Linked DNA regions of Homo sapiens. The protein of the gene in region 4 purifies or fractionates together with the protein of the main gene of each other region. This does not show direct contact. Each region holds a gene or a part of one and is shown on either strand. Other genes may lie near its edges.

Evidence for each region.
Region 1: the proteins of ARX (region 4) and CD99L2 purify together in Homo sapiens (affinity purification with mass spectrometry; one large-scale study listed by BioGRID and IntAct). This does not show direct contact.
Region 2: the proteins of ARX (region 4) and MIGA1 purify together in Homo sapiens (affinity purification with mass spectrometry, with the first as the bait; one large-scale study listed by BioGRID). This does not show direct contact.
Region 3: the proteins of ARX (region 4) and GTSE1 purify together in Homo sapiens (affinity purification with mass spectrometry; one large-scale study listed by BioGRID and IntAct). This does not show direct contact.

What each region holds. Positions count from the first base shown.
Region 1 is NC_000023.11:150,793,439-150,797,668, forward strand, and holds part of CD99L2 (CD99 antigen-like protein 2 isoform 1 precursor), read right to left. Parts: intron 2,049-4,230; coding exon 1,980-2,048; intron 1,852-1,979; coding exon 1,768-1,851; intron 319-1,767; coding exon 253-318; intron 1-252. UniProt on the Homo sapiens protein: Plays a role in a late step of leukocyte extravasation helping cells to overcome the endothelial basement membrane. Acts at the same site as, but independently of, PECAM1.
Region 2 is NC_000001.11:77,859,649-77,863,878, reverse strand, and holds part of MIGA1 (mitoguardin 1), read right to left. Parts: intron 3,840-4,230; coding exon 3,753-3,839; intron 2,656-3,752; coding exon 2,557-2,655; intron 1-2,556. UniProt on the Homo sapiens protein: Regulator of mitochondrial fusion: acts by forming homo- and heterodimers at the mitochondrial outer membrane and facilitating the formation of PLD6/MitoPLD dimers. May act by regulating phospholipid metabolism via PLD6/MitoPLD.
Region 3 is NC_000022.11:46,310,370-46,314,599, reverse strand, and holds part of GTSE1 (G2 and S phase-expressed protein 1), read right to left. Parts: intron 2,460-4,230; coding exon 2,295-2,459; intron 711-2,294; coding exon 587-710; intron 1-586. UniProt on the Homo sapiens protein: May be involved in p53-induced cell cycle arrest in G2/M phase by interfering with microtubule rearrangements that are required to enter mitosis. Overexpression delays G2/M phase progression.
Region 4 is NC_000023.11:25,005,077-25,010,036, forward strand, and holds part of ARX (homeobox protein ARX), read right to left. Parts: intron 2,364-4,960; coding exon 2,035-2,363; intron 1-2,034. UniProt on the Homo sapiens protein: Transcription factor. Binds to specific sequence motif 5'-TAATTA-3' in regulatory elements of target genes, such as histone demethylase KDM5C. Positively modulates transcription of KDM5C.

The DNA.
Region 1 (4,230 bases), about 130 Mb from region 4:
CCAGCATGAAACGTTAACCTATCAGCACTGCTGCTTAAGGAACATCAGGGGAAATGTGGGGCTTTTCCAAGATGGCTTATAAATCCCCCCCTTGAACTGCATGGCTCACATCATTCCAAATGAACCCCAACTGGCAGGCTGGGATGTCTGGGAACTACCACTCATTTCCCAGAGGCTCAATTAATCTGGTTGCTGCATAATCACCTTTTTCACCAGAATAAGGGTTGTGTTGGCACAAATCAATGCTCCTACCTTTACCCTTGTCAGGTTTGTATTCTCCACCCCCTACTATGTCTTCAAGATCCTTGTCTGAAAAACCTGGAGAAAATAAAACATACATTTCAACAACAAGAAAAAAAAATCAGCAACAAGAAACTTGTGCTAATGTTGCCCAAAATTCAGAAAATGATTCCCAGTTCCACTTAAGAATGCCCTTCATGAAATTCTAAGAGGTCCCCCCAGACCCCCTCCCACTGGTGTACATGTCCCGCATAATGTCCCACCACTCTGAGTGTGAGTGGAACCATGGATAGGATGGCTATATCACTCCCGTGATTAGGTTAGATTACATGCCAAAGGTGAAGGGATTTTGCAGAGGTGATTAAGGTACCAAATCAATTTGACTTTGCATTCATCAAAAAGGAGATTATCCTAGATGGGCATGACTTAATCAGGTGACATCCTCAAAAGCAGGTTCAGGCCTTCTCTGAGCTCAGACATGAGAAGCAACAGAGTCGGTCGGTCTCTCCTCCTTTCTCCCCCTACCAACCCGTCTGTTGGTCATTCTCCTGCTAGTCTTGAAGCAGCAAGCAGTCATTATTCCTATAGCTGCAAGGGAATGTACTGTCAACAAGCAATTGAGCTTGGAAGGGAACCCAACTTCAGACGAGACCCCAGCCCTCACCAACACCTTGACTGCAGCTATATGAGCTCCTGAGCAGAAAACTCAGCTTAGCTGTTCCTCAACTCCGGACCAAAGGAAACAGTGGGATAATAAATGGGTGTTGCCTTAACTCAGAGTTTCTGATTTTTGTTATGCAGCAAGGAAACTGACACAAGGAAGCAGAAAATTTATGAACGGGTAAAAGGTCCACTGAAAGGACAAGATAGTCCCACGGAACCAAGTGTGGAAAGTTCACTGATAAGAGTTTCACACTCCACACTACGCTTAACCTGTAACAAACAACCGCTTTTGTTGGGGCCAAGTTTTGGTGTCCTATCCGAGAAGATTATCCACAAGGATCTGAAAAGTCTGTGAAAATATTCCTCCCTTTCCCCACTGCCTATGGGTGTGAGGCCAGATTTCCTTCATATACTTCAACCAAAACAACATCTCACGATGGAATAAAGTGCCTGTGAGAAGCCAGCTGCTTCCATCCAGCCAGACATGAGAGAAATCTGCAAAAATGTAACAGCGTGCCGCTCTCCTCAATACAAGTTTTTGTCTTGCCAAGCATAGTTATTTCTCATAAAAATGTTATTTATGTTAAATGTATGGGTTTAATGTTGTTCATTTTAGATTGATTAATAAAGTCTTTCAGTTTTAAATTCTAAGATGATGAGTATTGATAAACGTGACCCACATAAGCAAAATCTCTCTTGAGATCTCAATGATTTCAGGAGTCCCCAGACCAAAAAAGTTTGAGTACCACCATTATAGGGTTCTCCAGTGGCTTGAAGTGCCTCCAGCTCTGCCAGGCCCAAGCTGGCTCTGGCTCTGTGGGATGATGTAATTAATGAGACAGAACCAGACCAGGTGGGACTCACCTCCTCCTCCAGCAATTGGTTTCCTGCGGCCATCATCTCGATCATTTCGATCATCCAGGGCATCAGCCAAGTCAAAATCATTTCCTTCATGGGGTCCCAAAATAAAAGAAATACTCAATTAGTTCATCTATGGGTAGCTCATTTGGATCCTGTCTCAGAGGGAGCCCCATGGGATCCTTGCCTTACTACTCTCCTCAGAGCGGCCACCTTACCTAAAGTATTTGCTGGAGCTCTGGTGGTTACTGGCCTCTTGGTCGTGGTGGTTACATGGTTCCATCTCTCTAAAAGGGGAAGGGAGGACAGCAAAGGGAGCACATTTAGGAACAAAATGCAGCAGCCATTCATGGCTCAGGGAAGTCACATCATGAATATTCTTGTCTTGGTCCTTGAGGCTCCTATAGGACCTCTGCAGAATCACTTTGAGACGGATGACAAAGAGATATAAAAGGCTTAAATGAGGTGGGTTCTGTTCACTTTTCTTCAGGGGATGGGGGTTATGAGGCAGACATAGTCCCACATGTGGCCAGGTAAGTGGCAAAGCTGGGACTTGAGCCCAGATCTGCGGGAGATGACCACATGGACCGAGGAGTTCTAGAGCTTGAGCTCCAAGCCTTGGTTCCACCACTGTCAACCTGGCACTTGAACTATAGCTAATCCTGCCCAGGGATGGACAGATTGAGGATGCATTCCCAGTGGACTGTGGTAGTATCTTATACACGGAAAGTGCTTACAACACACACATATATAATTTTATATAACTGTGGTTACTATTATAAACATCAGGTCTCTGGGCTCAACCAGATTCCTTTCAAATATGGACTTCTTTCACACCAATTACACAGATGGCATTCATGAATTTTCCAAATGATTCTTCTCTTGAACTTCAGAAGACTGTGCTGTAACTGTTCCCACTATTGAAGTTAATAGAGGGAAAAGACAGAGACAGTGCTGTATACAGCAAGCACCTGGGAGAGAAACAGCGATGTATCTGGGGAAAAAACCTAAATGAGTTTTACAGAGCAATAATGTGATATCCAAACTGCCTAGGGACATTTAAAATGTATTGCCTATCATTTTTCGATAGACCTTTGGTGTTGTCTGTGGATCAAAGAAATGTAGGTCTGAATCTTCTGCAAAGAAAATACAAAAACAATACAGTAAGTCAAGTCATAACCCAACAGTTCTCAGATGGAATGAAGAGGGATATTATAAAATGATAAAAGGATCAATCCACCAGGAAGACGTAACAATCCTGAATGTGTGTGCACCTAACAATAGAGTGTCTAGACACATTAAGTAAAACCTGATAGAGCTAAAAGGAGAAATAAGCAAATGCACATTTATAGTTGGGGACTTCAACACTCCACTCTCAGCAATTGGTAGAACTACTAGACAGAAAATCTACAAGGATATTGAAGGAGTGAACAATAATCAACCAATGGGATTTAATTGGCACAACAGGACACACCAGCCAATTACAGCAGAGTAAACAATTGTTTAAGCACTCACAGAATATTCACCTGAGATCATATTCTGAACCAGGAAATAAACTTCAACAAATTTAAAAGTATTGAAATTATGCAGAGAGGTATCATTGATTATACTTAATTCAAATTAGAAACAGAGAAGAAACAACAGAAAACAAGAAAATCTCTAAACATTTGGATATTAAACAACATATTTCTAAATAAAACAAGGGTCAAAGAAAAAGTTTCAAAGGAAATTTTAAAAAATACATAGAACTGTGTGAAAATGAAAACACAACATAGCAAAATATGTGGGATCTAAAGCAGTGCAGAGAGAAGTTTATAGCACTCAATGCATAAGTTAGACATGAAGAAGAGCCTCAAATCAATAATCTAAGTTACTAATTCAAGATGCTAGAAAAAGAAGCTAGCTAGATACTAGAAAAACAAAACCAAAGCAAGCAGATGGAAAAAATAAACACAAGAGCAGAGATCCATGAAACTGAAAATAAGAATGCAATACTAAAAAAAAATCAATAAAACCAAAAGTTTATTTATACAGTAAAAAGGGATAAACCGCTAGCCTTACTAACAAACATAAAAGTTAAAAAAGATGATATGCCAATAAAAGGACTGAAATGGGACACTGTAGATCTTGTAACCATTAAAAGAATAATAATGGAATAATATGAACATTTTTTAGCTCACATATTTGACAACTTGGAAGAAATGGACCAATTTCTCAAAAACCACCAACTATCAAAATACAACCTAATCCTGTGTTCATGGATTAGAAGACACTAAATTGTTAAAATGGCAATGCATACTATCTAAAGCAATCTACAGATTCAATGGAATCCCTACCAAAATCCCAATGACATTTGTTGCAGAAATAGACAAATTCATCCTAAAATTCACATGGAATTTCAAGGAATCTCAAACAGCCAAAACAATCTAGAAAAAGAACATAGAAGAGTCACACTTCCTGATTTTAAAA
Region 2 (4,230 bases), on a different chromosome or scaffold from region 4:
AGTTGAAACAGAAATTATTATTACATAGAGCTGAAATAAAATCTGAGCCAGGGCTTTATGGTTTTATAACAGCAGGGGTTTTTTTTAATCAGCTTATTCAAAAATAAAAAATAAAAGGAGAGATAAATATGAAAGCTCGCCACTAGAAATTACGAATTCACATTATCGCTGCTCCTTCCTAGATCTCAAGTGAAAATAATCTCTCCTCCTCTCTATTCTAGGAGTCCTTTGTTCACGCTTCTATTATAACATCCAGGATGCTCATTCTGCCTTGTTATTTAGTTACTGGTATATGTGCCTGTCTTCCCCACCAGATCATGAACATCTTGCTCTTTCATTCATTCATACATACACACTCTACATACTACATGCTGTACCAAGTGCTCAAACTTCTAGAGTAAGCAAATTAGACGCCTAGAGTATAGTGGGGAAAACAGCAACAAAATAATCCTGCAAATATCCAATTATGAACTGTGTGAAGCACAATAAAGGAAAAAGTATAGTGTGCTGTATCATTTTGGCAGAAATGTGGAGAATGAAACAGGGGAAAGAATGAATGCAGGGAGGAAAGGAGTGAGCAGGGAATCGGGAAATATAAAGACTACTGATGTAGCCCAGAGAAAAGACAACAGGCACTTAGGCCAAGAGGGGTGACAGAAAGAGAGAAAAGTCGAAGAAACTGAAAGATATTTAGGAGTTAAAACTGACAAAATTAGAGATGAATATGATAAAATGGGTGAGCATCAGGGAGAGGTGAAGGATGAGTCTCAGGTTGCTGGCCTGCAGAAGTAAATGGATACTGATTTCATTTCCTGAATAAGGGAACACTAGAAAAGGAAAAATTAAGTCTTCATGTATTTGTTGTATCCACTGTTTTCTCTGCCTAGAAGGCCTTTCAGCTGCTTGTAAACTCACTCTTTTTTTTTTTTTTTGCTTCTGAGACAGAGTCTTGCTCTGTCACCCAGGCTGGAGTGCACTGGCACGATCTCGGCTTACTGCAGCCTCCACCTCCTGGGTTCAAGTGATTCTCTTGCCTCACCCTCCTGAGTAGCTGGGATTACAGGCATGCACCACCATGCCTGGCTAATTTTTGTATTTTTAGTGGAGACAGGGCTTCACCATGTTGGCCTGGCTGATCTCAAACTCCTGGCCTCAAGTGATCTGCCCGCCTCGGCCTCCCAAAGTGCTGGGATTTCATTCCTTTTGTGTGTGTGTGTGACGGAGTCTCGCTCTGCCACCCAGGCTGGGATTACAGGCATGCGCTCCATGCCTGGCTAATTTTTGTATTTTTAGTAGAGACAGGTTTCACCATGTTGGTCAGGCTGGTCTTAAACTCCTGACCTCACGATCTGCCCGTCTCAGCCTCCCAAAGTGCTGGGATTACAGGCGTGAGCCACCATGCCGGACCGATATCTATATCTATATATTTTTTGAGCCAGAGTCTTGTTCTGTCACCCAGGCTGGAGTACAGTGGCGCGATCTTGACTCTCTGCCACCTCCACCTCCCAGGTTCAAGCAATTCTCATTCCTTGGCCTCCCGAGTAGTTGGGATTACAGGCGTGAGCCACTACACCTGGCTAATTTTTGTATTTTCAGTAGAGATGAGGTTTTGCCATGTTGGCTAGGTTGGTCTCGAACTCCTGACCTCAGGTGATCCGCCCGCCTCAGCCTCCCAAAGTGCTGGGATTACAGGCGTGAGCCACCATGCCTGACCAATATCTATATCTATATATTTTTTGAGACAGAGTCTCGTTCTGTCACCCAGGCTGGAGTACAGTGGCACGATCTTGGCTCACTGCCGCCTCCACCTCCCAGGTTCAAGCAATTCTCGTTCCTTGGCCTCCCGAGTAGTTGGGATTACAGGCGTGAGCCACTATACCCAGCTAATTTTTGTATTTTCAGTAGAGACAAGGTTTTTCCATGTTGGCTAGGTTGGTCTCAAACTCCTGACCTCAGGTGATCCGCCCGCCTCAGCCTCCCAAAGTGCTGGGATTACAGGCGTGAGCCACCATGCCTGGACCGATATTTATTTCTATATCTGTATCTACATATATATTATAAACTGTGAACTCACACTGACAGCTCCAATTCCAATCCCAGCATTTTATACCTCCCTTCTCTCACAGGGAAAAGCTGGCTCTGATTTTTCTCAGTATACTTATTTGTTCAGTCTTGTGTATACAGCCAATTCCCCAGCCCTACTGAGCTGCTGCTGTTGTACTACCCAAAGCTGTCCTTGCATGGGCCACCATTCCTGTCCTGCTAGGGGCCTGCCAATGACTTTTGGAGAGAAGGAAGAGAGGGAACAAGGGAAGGAGGACAGGAGGGAAGGAAGCAAGGAGCCAACAACAGCAAAAAAGGCTTCTTAGAAAACAATTTACAACTACTGCCCCAACGTACAAGGAGTGTGGTTTATGACTTCGTCAGAAAAAAAGATGTCCCACAACCATACAATTGGCTTTATTTAACAAGGACAATGAAACAGTAGTCTCAACTCATATAAAATTACATGCAAATAACTAAGAAAAATAAATATCACAAAAAATTTGAATTTACCCCTCTAGCAGCAAGTTCCATTTCAGTACTACCCCAGTGATCGGTCTGCTCTAAAAAATAGATCATTTCATCAAAAACATCTTCAAACTTCTTTGGATTCTGAAGAAGAAAACACATTTTAACCCTAAACTCAACTTTATAACAAGCTACAAAGAAAGTTACTCTTCAAATAAGTCTGGTAGATCTTAATTCTACTAGGTAACTGAACTAAAATACATTTTAAAGGTATGCCAAATTTATCTGGTTTACTACTTTGCTATTGCAACATTTTGCAGAAGCCAAGATAAAGAATGTCAGTAAAATGTCACAAGCAAACTATTTATTACTCAAATATGTATGCCTATTTTGGTCAGTAATTAAAATGAAAATTTGGTTATAGCAGACATTATGTGAGGCTTTTGTTGCAGTTCTGCTTCTTTTGGAGGAACCCTAGTTCAAATCACTGAGTTTATCTGTCATGAGAAGGCCAAGAAAGCAACACAAGACTTACATTGGGAATTGCATGTATTAATAGTATCACCTTACATATACTTAGCTTTACACTACTTAACACTTTATTCTTTAAGTTGCTTCCCATTTATCATTTATTTAATCATCCTAAAAACCCTCTGAAATGAGGTAATATAAATACAATTCTATTATATAAATGAAAGAATTAAAGTTCAAAGGGATTGAGTCTGAAAACTAGGTGTGCAAATGGCTCAAGGAAGGCTTGTTTTGTTTTATCATCATCTGGACAAACCTTGCATAAAGTAAGGTGGTTCCTTACAGTCTGAATGAAGTTCTTGTCATTGCTTCTGCCTCATTCAACTACATGAAGATGAGGCAGTTCAATTTGTATTCCAGATTTCTGAGACCTACGCTATTTCCTGTAACCCTCTTCCTGAACAGGATTGAGGTAATAAAAGAGGAGGCATTAGTAATAATAACAGTGATGGTTATAGCAGCAGATCTAATGATAATTCTCACCATGACATTTACAGAGTTTATGGCAAACTGGAAATAATTTATGAGAAACAACTTGGTTGAAATAGTGTGGACTTTATACATAGTTCAACCCGAGCATAACTTAATGCCCTTTTCAACTATCCACAAAAATTTTTCTTCTATCAAAAATTTAATGTCTTAATCTTCAGTTCAAAGGGTAAAAACAACTTTTGTAAATGGTAAAAATCTTGCCAACAGAACAAGTTTACCTTTCGTGCTTTCACAATTAAAGCTGATAAAATTTTCCTTCCGCTCTCAGCGAGGAATATCCTGTTAGCTGATTCTGAAAGAATTACCTGAAAAAATATTCATCCCCAAAGAAAAAAGAGACCTATAATGAATGTGAATGGACATTCAACTTAATAGCACAAATAATCCTAAAACAGTTAATGCATTGCATGTGGTGCTATTTCAACAGGCAGCTCACAGAGAAAGTCCTAATTTACTAAAATAAAAAGAACTCTTGAAACCTATAGTCAAAAAAAGATTAAAGGGAGTTAAATTTGAATTTAAATTCTGTTCAAAATCATATTACAGTCTCAAATAAATTTCCTATAGCCCCAAAACATAAGAAAACAAATATATTCTTGTTATTTTCTTTTTAGAAAATCAATTTTATAATTGACTGAAATTAAATCTCAAATACACACTAATTAATAAGAAAGAGTGTTTTTATTTTAAGCAGCC
Region 3 (4,230 bases), on a different chromosome or scaffold from region 4:
CCGGCCCACTTTTTACATTTTGTGAACACAATCCACACCATGCTGCCCTGAACGACCCCGAGACGCCACATGGCCAATGCACCTCGAAGAGGATTTCGCTCTGAAGAGCAGAAAGGCGAAGGCTTTCCCTTACCACTAGATGGCAGCTGTGGCTTGGCAAGGTTGAAATGTGGCTTGACCTCAAACAGGTGTGGGAGCATGGATTTAAACAGGCACCCAGGAGTTATGGGGCCATATGCCCTACATTATCTGGAATAGTCCTATTTTAAAACTGGTGTCTCATGACATGGACATGAGGGTGATTCCAGTGTCCATGTTCTCAGGCACGGGGTATCATACATGCTTTCTGGCCATGTGTACCCCGTAGACTGAAGCCACCCATCTGAGTGTGCCCTCCTCATGGGACAGAGGCACTGAGGGCAGGTACAGCAACTCAGTCCACAGCCTGGTCCACCGCACACAGCACGCCCTCCGGGACGTCCTGCCAAGCCTAAGTGGTTCTGCAGAAACAGTCTCCAAGGCCTGAGCAGCACTCCAGGCCTCACCTGGCCAGATGTGGGTCCAAGCATGATGCCGGCTGCCTCACCTTTGCCCACTGCTGGGGATGTGCACGCACTGGATGCCCCGCTCCAAACAGGCCCCGAGGAGGACTTCCTTGCGAGATTGCTGGTAGAGCCGGGTGCTTTTAACAGGGTCTTCTTCAGCCCCAACTGGGGCAAAATGTGAAAAAACAGAATCAGCAAAGATCTCGTTATTTACCTATTACTTGTGTCTGCAAAAGTAAGGGGTTTTTGGCTGGGCACGGTGGCTCACGCCTGTAATCCCAGCACTTTGGGAGGCTGAGGCCGGAGGATCACAAGGTCAGGAGTTTGAGACCAGCCTGGCCAATATGGTGAAACCTTGTCTCTACTAAAAATATAAAAACTAGCTGGGCATGGTGGCAGGCACCTGTAGTCCCAGCTACTCGGGAGGCTGAGGTAGGAGAATTGCTTGAACCCGGGAGGTGGAGGTTGTAGTGAGCTGAGCTCGTGCCATTGCACTCCAGCCTGGGCGACAGAGTGAGACTCCGTCTCAACAACAACAACAACAACAAAAGTTGGTGTTTTTACTATTTTAAAATAATCTAATAATTATCATCTTGAATTTAAAGAAGAAAAAAGTCAAGCAGCACTTCTCAAAGTGTAGTCTTCAAACCCCTGCATGAGGACCACATTAGGGAGCTAGCAGAAATGCAGATTTGGGGCCCCAACCCAGACCCCATGAGTCAGCAGCTGCAGGGCCCAGCTTTGGGCAGTTCTAACAAGAACTGCCAGTACACACAGCTTGGTTTACCGCCAATGCCAGAAAATAAGTGGCAAAGATGTGGCTGGTAGTCTCCATGCCTGTGAGGAACCGCAATTTTCTTTCTTTTCCTTTTTTTTTTTTTTTTTTTTAGACAGGGTCTCACTCTGTTGCCCAGGCTGGAATGGAATGCAGTGGCATGATCACAGCTCACTGCAGCCTTGACCTCCTGGGCTCAAGCAATCCTCCCACCTCAACCTCCCAAATAGCTGGGACCACAGGCATGCACCACCATGCCTGGCTGATTTTTATTTTTTAATGGAGATGGGGGCCTCACTATGTTGCCCAGGCTGGTCTCAAACTCCTGGGCTCAAGTGATCCTCCCGCCTCAGCCTCCCAAAGTGCTGAGATTACATGTGTGAGCCACTGCACCCAGCTGCTGTTTTCAAAACATCAACATCTCATGTCATCTGTTCAAGAACTCTACATGAGGGAAACGGAATATCCCCACCTACAAACTGGGGCTCCGAGACGCTGACTTTTCCCAACCCACACAGCTCCCAGGGCAGAGGCTAGCCATCAGTGCACACTGCGAAGCCAGTATTCTTTGCATGTATTTTGCAGGCTGCCTCTTGTGGGTGTATTTTCAACTTTTCCACCTCTTTTTTTTTTTTTTTTTTGAGACAGGGTCTCATTCTGTCACCCAACCTGGAGTGCAGTGGCGTGATTATGACTCACTGCAGCCTCGACCTCCTGGGCTCAAGCAATCATCCCACCTCAGCCTCCTGAGTAGCTGGGACTGCCGTTGCTCACCACCATGCCCAGCTAATTTTTGTATTTTTTGTAGAGATGGGTTTCATCATGTTGCTCAGGCTGGTCTTGAACTCCTGGGCTCAAGTGATCCTCCCACCTTGGCCTCCCAAAATGCTGGGATTTTAATCCAAAGCACTTGTACACACAGCTGCCACCTCATTCCCAGCAACCACAAGTTTGGGCCCCAGCAGCCAACTCACCTTGTTTGGAACAGGGATCGCCCGCTTGCCCTGGCCCAAGTGGCTTCCGGCGGCCGGCACATTGACAGCACCCGGGGCAGGTTTGTCAGGGAGAACATCCCGGTGGGATTCCTTCTCAGCTGGGATTTTTGTCCTGGAAGGACTAGCTGGAATCTCTTTCTTGGGCTGAAAATTTTAATTTGAACTGTGAGAACTGTCTAGTGCTTAACAATGTACAGAGATACTCAGGCTTCCATTCAGAGCGAGCCTAGGCCCCATCTTCCCCAGTGCTACACATGCCCCTCCATTCATCAGCCAGATTGAAGGGAACAGGGCAAGCAGTTCGCATCCTCCACCAAATCACTATGGACATAAGTGATGATGGATTTTGCTTCCTCATTAAAAACAGCATCAAATGATACCTACACAGATCATTAATAGGAGAGAGGTTCTCTAAAGCCATTCCCCAGTCAGGATCCTTATTTAAGAATGATAATGAGAAAGCTGGTCTAGTTACACAAATTTTAAAATGCTGTACAGAAAGGACTCATCCATTAAATGGTCATCTCTACCAGAGAAGCTGCTCAATTGCAATAAATCTTCTTGGTCTAGTACTGAAAGCCATTTTCTTTGGCCAGCAGAGTCAAAAAATAAGTTCTTGACATATTTAGGGACAAGGGCATTCATGGAACTAATTTATACTTACATAAATAGCCCCCTTATAACAGGAGAGTTAATAAGGTAACAGCAATAGAAGCTCAGAGTGGTAAAGACGCAGCAGTAACTTTTTCCCTTTATAGCATTTCTAAAAACTGAGATACTTCTCATAACATAAAATTCACTATTTTAAACAGTATACTTCAGTGGTTTTTAGTAGATCTGTTATGTTGTACAACCAGCACAAGCTAATCTTAAAATATAGTGGTGTCCCAAAAAAGAACCTGTACTCGGCCGGGTGCAGTGGCTCACGCCTGTAATCCCAGCACTTTGTGAGGCCGAGGCGGGCAGATCACCTGAGGCCAGGAGTTTGAGACCAGCCTGACTAATATGATGAAACCCTGTCTCTACTAAAAATACAAAAATTAGCCGGGCGTGGTGGCGGGCGCCTGTAATCCCAGCTACTCGGGAGGCTGAGACAGGAGGACTGCTTGAACCCGAGAGGCAGAGGATGCAGTGAGCCGAGATTGCACCATTGCACTCCTGCCTCGGCAACAAGAGCAAAACTCTGTCTCAGAAACAAAACAAAACAAAACAAAAAAAAAAACAACCTGTACCCATTAGCGGTTCTCCCCTTTCCCTCATCCTCCCCAGCCCCACCTAGGGAAGCACTCAACCACGCCTCTGTCATTGGCCTGTCATAGTCATTTCATATAAATGGAACCATACGACATGGGACCTTTTGTTATGGCCTCTCTCACTGAGCAAAATGTTTTCAGTGGTGCCATCTTGGCTCACTGCAACCTCCACCTCCTGGGTTCAGGCGATTCTCCTGCCTCAGCCTCCCAAGTAGCTGGGATTACAGGTGTGCACCACCATACTTGGCTAATTTTTGTATTTTTTTGTAGAGACGGGGTTTCACCATGTTGGCCGGGCTGGGCTCAAACTCCTGACCTCAGGTGATTCGCCCACCTTGGCTTCCCAAAGTGCTGTGATCACAGGTGTGAGCTACCACGCCCAGTAGTGTTTCTTTTTATTGCCAAAAATAAACCATTGTTTGGATAGACTGCATTTTCGTTACCCAATCATCATTTGCTGGATGCCTGGGTTGGTCCTACTTTTTTGGCTGTTATGAATAATGCTGCTTCGAACATCTGCATGTGGATTTTTCTGTGGATATGGTTTCAATTCTCTCAGGTCTGTGTACTAAGGAGTGGAATTGCTGGGTCCCATGGGACCCTCTACATTTATTTTTTTGAGGAGCTGCCAAACTGTTTCCACAACAGCTGCCCCATTTCAC
Region 4 (4,960 bases):
CCCGCAGAGAGGGCTTTCCTGGGGCAGGGAACCGACTGGGGGGAAAAGACCGAGTCCAGATATTCCCCGAGGGGCCGGGCCGGGCCGGGGTCCACAGGCCGGCGTGGAGACCTCAAGCCCCACGGCCCAGTGGCGTGGATTCGGTGGTTTCGCTTAAACGGACGGTTTATTCCAAGGCCAGGGGCTGCAATGACACTATCTCCCAGGAGAGAATGCGGAAGGAGAAAAGGAGAGGAGAGCAAAAGAAGGGAAGGTGGAGGGTGGGAGGGGGGAGGAAAAAAAAGACGGAGAAGGTGGGATTCCAGCTGCCCGGACGCACGCCGCAGGCTCTGAGATCTCCCTCCGGCTCCTTGGCCCGGGACTTTCTGCGCCCTGAAGAAACAGGCCTAGCTCGCCGGCCTCCCGGGCCACCCGCGCCGCCGCGGCCGCCCTTCCGCGCGGGACTCAGCTACCCGCGTCTGGCCAGCGCCTGCGGGTGAGAGTGAAGGGCGACCGCCTGTTGATTTCGGCTCCACGGGCGGGTGTCACCTGCCAGCAGCCCCACATCCTGGCGCGGCGACCCCAGCTGTCTTCCCCGCGCCCCTGTAGCCTCTGGCCTCAGGGAGCCCCCGACCCACGACCCTGGCGCGCGGCGCAAGGCGATGCCCAAGCCTGGGACCCACGCCAGCGCCACCGCCTCCAAGCGGCGACCGAATTACTCCACGTGACGCTTCCACCCCATGCACACAGCACCGGGACATTAGCTGTGGCCGGAGCCGCCCGGGGCCACCGGACACCACCCCCACGCCCACCGCCTTGGAGCGCCCGCGAGCTTTCCCGACCGCCTCCCTGAGGGGTCTGGCTCCAGGCCCGCGGGGCCAATTCCGGATTTCCAGGGTTAGAAATGAGCCCACCTGGGCTCACCGAGCGCCGCCTCCTTCTCCCAAGCCCACTGCTCACTCCTCGCACCACCCCAGCCCAGACCCTCTTCCAGCCTCTCCGAATCTCGCAACTCGGTCCTCCAGCCACGGTTCGCCTGGGTTTACAAGTCACTTGTCAGAGGGAAAAAGTGGAGGGAGGGGAGAGACAGAACTTTAAGATTTTTCTCAGAAAGAAATGATAAAGTGTGACCCGGAGGTGGCGTAACATGCCCTGGTTCCATTAGGTAAACTGAGTCACTAACTCTGCTTCAGTGCGCTCGCTGTTTATTTTATTGGTTTGTTATAAGAAACTAAATTTACTCCGAGTCTTAATTTTCTGTAAGATGATTTTTTGTTAAGCAGCTGCGCAGTTGGATGAATCTATTATTTCTTTGTTCTCCCAAAGAGTGATCATTGAAGCTGCATCCAGTTTTATTTTCACTGCGCTAACACAATACATCCCTCCTTTGTTTCTTTGTCTGTGTGATTATACAGACTTTTTATTTCCTCATTCGATGTTCATTAAAGAAAGGGAGTTATAAGATGAACTGTTTCTTTTATTTCGTTGTCTTGTACTGCCGTGTAGATCGGGGCTTGCACATATGGGGGTGTCGTTGGCAGCGGGTCACTTGAGTGACAAGGAAGATGGAGTCTGGGGCAGAAGAAAGAATTCTGTGCACCCAGAGGGCCTGGTGGCTCCAGGGCTCCCATGGGGATCAGGGCTGTGTTCCTCAGGCTGCCAGGTTGGGGGGCATAAGGAAGAACTTTTGCAAAACTTAAAAAGTCGTCCCTGCTCTGTACCCTACACCTGTACATATTTGCTCGCTTACCACCTATGGTGGGACTTGTTGCAGCCTGCAAATGGTACTTTTACAGCTTTCATTCTCGGTTGTCACGGTTGTCGTTACTGCCACTGCCTTCCCCTTTCCCATTAAGTTCCAAGTCAATACCTTCAAGACCCACATTTTTTTTTTTGAGGCTCAATTAGAGAGTATTTTCTTTGGCTACAGTCTCTGAGGTTGGGTCAAAGAAAAAGATGTGTGTAACCCTGTTTGACTCCTGCCTCCTCCCTGCCCCCAGCCTCTGTGTGTATGAGAGACAGACAGACAGACAGACTTCCGAGGCTGCGCGTTACCTGCCGAATGCCGGGCTGATGAAAGCTGGGTGTCGGAACACTGCCGCTCCGAGGAAAGTGCTCAGGCCCAGCGGCGCCCCGCTGGGCGGCAGGCTGGCCGAGCCCGGAGGCGGAGGTAGGCTCGGGAAGGCGGCGGCGGCGGCGGCGGCAGCGGCAGTCCAAGCGGAGTCGAGCGCCGGGTGGTGCGGAGGGAAGGGGCTGGCGTCCAGGTAGGGGCTGAGCGGGTGGGTGGCGGAGAGCGGCCCCGGGAAGGGCAGCCCAGGGGGGTGGGTCTGCGCGCCTGCCTTCTCCCGCTTGCGCCACTTGGCCCGACGGTTCTGGAACCAGACCTGCAAGGCAGAGAGAGCCCAGGGTCGGCGCGGCTCGGCCCGGCGGGCGCACCGGGCCCCTACCCGTCCCTTCCCTTGGCGCGCTGCGGGGCCCCCTTCCTTTCCACCGCGGCCCGCGCCCACCTGCCCCTCTTTGGCCTCAGGTTGTTTTCGGACGCGTCTGGGGCCAAATGAGCAGTGAATAGGAGCCGCAACTTCAAGTCAGCAGGAAACAGGACAAGCAAACCCTTTCTGCCGGCATTCCACCTGGGCCAGTTTTCCAAGTTTAAGGAAAGTGATTCAGTGTGTTTAGAGTTGGGGAAACCAAAGTTTAAACGTCTGTGCTGACGCTTGCTAGGATCTTTAGGCAGGTCACTTAAACCTCTCTGAACCTCAGTTTTCGAATCTGTAAAATGGGGATAATAAAACTTCACTCATAAGGCTGTTATGAGAACTGGGTAAAATAAGGCAAGTGAAAGCATGCATTCAATGGTGACTCTAGGGAATGGGCAGCCACCAAGAGATGAGGGACATGCTTGTTTTACTGCATATCAGCTATTTTCACCTATTTCAGATTTACGCAAGAGCTGGCAAAATTCTTGCTCTGTATGGAAGAGGAAAGTGGAAAGATAGTTCATTTATTCTTTCCAGAAACATTTATTGAACACCAAAGAGCACTATGCTGGGTTCTGGGGTTCAGAGAGGGATGAGAGGGAGGGAAGAAAGGCTCGAGTTAATTAGCAAGCATACATTTCAGGGGGTCAATCCTCTATGAAATGAAACAGGGATACACAACCTGCTCTTGGCAGGGGATCCCTGCAGGACCCAGTTCTATGCAGGAAGGCACTGACTACATGGATGAAGCAGGCAGCAATACCTGGGCGCATAGAAATCAGAGGGCATGATAGGTGTAGACTTTTCACATCTTCAGAGCTAACAAGTCTTTTATTTCCTTTTGGAGATGTGTTTTAAATCGGCTATTTAAATAAGATAGTTTTAGGCTTGGAGGGAGGTTTTCAGCCTGAGGTATTTTCCTAATTGCTAATAGAAAGCGGTTTTAATGGAGACCTTTACCTGAAACATGGCAGCTACCATCATCTAAAAATAAACCCCAGGAGCATGAAATTATTTTTATGTGACCTGCTCATCACACCCACAGCTGGGAAGATATGCTCCTTCTCCCCTGAAGGCATTAATATTTTTAGGGCTGGGTTTATAACTGCACACAAGTCTGAAAATTAAGAATGAACTCCAGGGCTATACAGAGTTATATTAAAATATAATGTAAATTATCCCAGAGGAATATATTTTAAAATGTGAAACACATCCATATTTTTCAAATCTACACACTGGGGCTTGTTGTTACCAGCACTAGCATCTAAGCTTGGTTTGACTTCTAGACAGCCCCCCAGGGCAAGAAAAATCAAGAATCCAAATCGGTCAATTACTTCCAAGTCGGCCAAAAGGGGGCCCATTCACACCATTCCACAGCCTTCAAAATAATCTATTTGTGAATTTCAGAAACACTTCAGTGTGGAAACCCAGAGGCTTGAAAAAGTAAGACTGTAGATGGGACCGGACTGGGTGGGCAGCTTTTGTGTAGCCAAATCTGTCTAGACAAGAATATCCGCCACTCCTTGATCGCAGTGAAAGAAGAAGGGGAACTGGGGGCAGTGGACTCAGAATGCCCTCAAAGAACGTGGAAACCTTTTTACAGACAGATCGTCTCTCCCGGCTCAACTGCAATTATCAAGATGTCCCCCTGCAATTCCTCATTATTGAATTAATACCTCTGAGGCCCCCCAAAGGTAAACGAAAGGACTCTAATAATTCATATTCACTTAATTACATCTTCTCCAGTGAATAGGGGGAGAGGAGAAAGGGAGGGGGCGCTCTCTTTCTTTTTAAAAGTTATTTAACTTTCCCACGACTTGTTCCCCTGAGCTGAAAATACGGAGTTGCTGTCACATCTCTGTTTGACAATGGAGAAATGTGTCAACAGAAAGGAGGGGACAGGCCTCATCATTAGCCCTCTAATGCAAGAAGCTGTTGTGTATTAAATGAGCCATATGGAATTTATTGTGCTTTATCAGCGCTTGATTTTGACTGTAAAGTGATTCACTCAGCTCCTAACTCGGGGACATCTGTTTTCTGTTGGCCATCGGGGCTGCTCAGTGTTGATCGTCTCTTTGGTTATGAGGCCTGGGTTCGGAAATGCACTCTGGTATGGGGCTGCAAACACCTTTAATAGCATTGCACTCACTCCCTATTAGATCAATGTGGGTTCATTGCTATAAAAAATGGGAAATCAAATAGCATTAGCCAGCTCCTTGTGCGGGGCGGAGGGGAAATCAAACAGCATTTTGCCTTCAAATGGCCCTGTTTGTTCTAGCACTAAGTGGGCTTTTATGAAGCCCGATTGGAGACTTAATCGCAGCCAAATACCTGCTTGGAACTGAGCGGATTTGTCTAACAACCAAATCCATGCTCCATCCCATTATTTCAATCAGGAGAAGTAGATCGGTGGATTGTTTCCTATAGGAGCTTTGGGGCTAGGGGGTCCCAAACTGCAGTCTCAGGGACTCTAAAGCCCTTGTTCTGATCCTGGACTCCTTCCT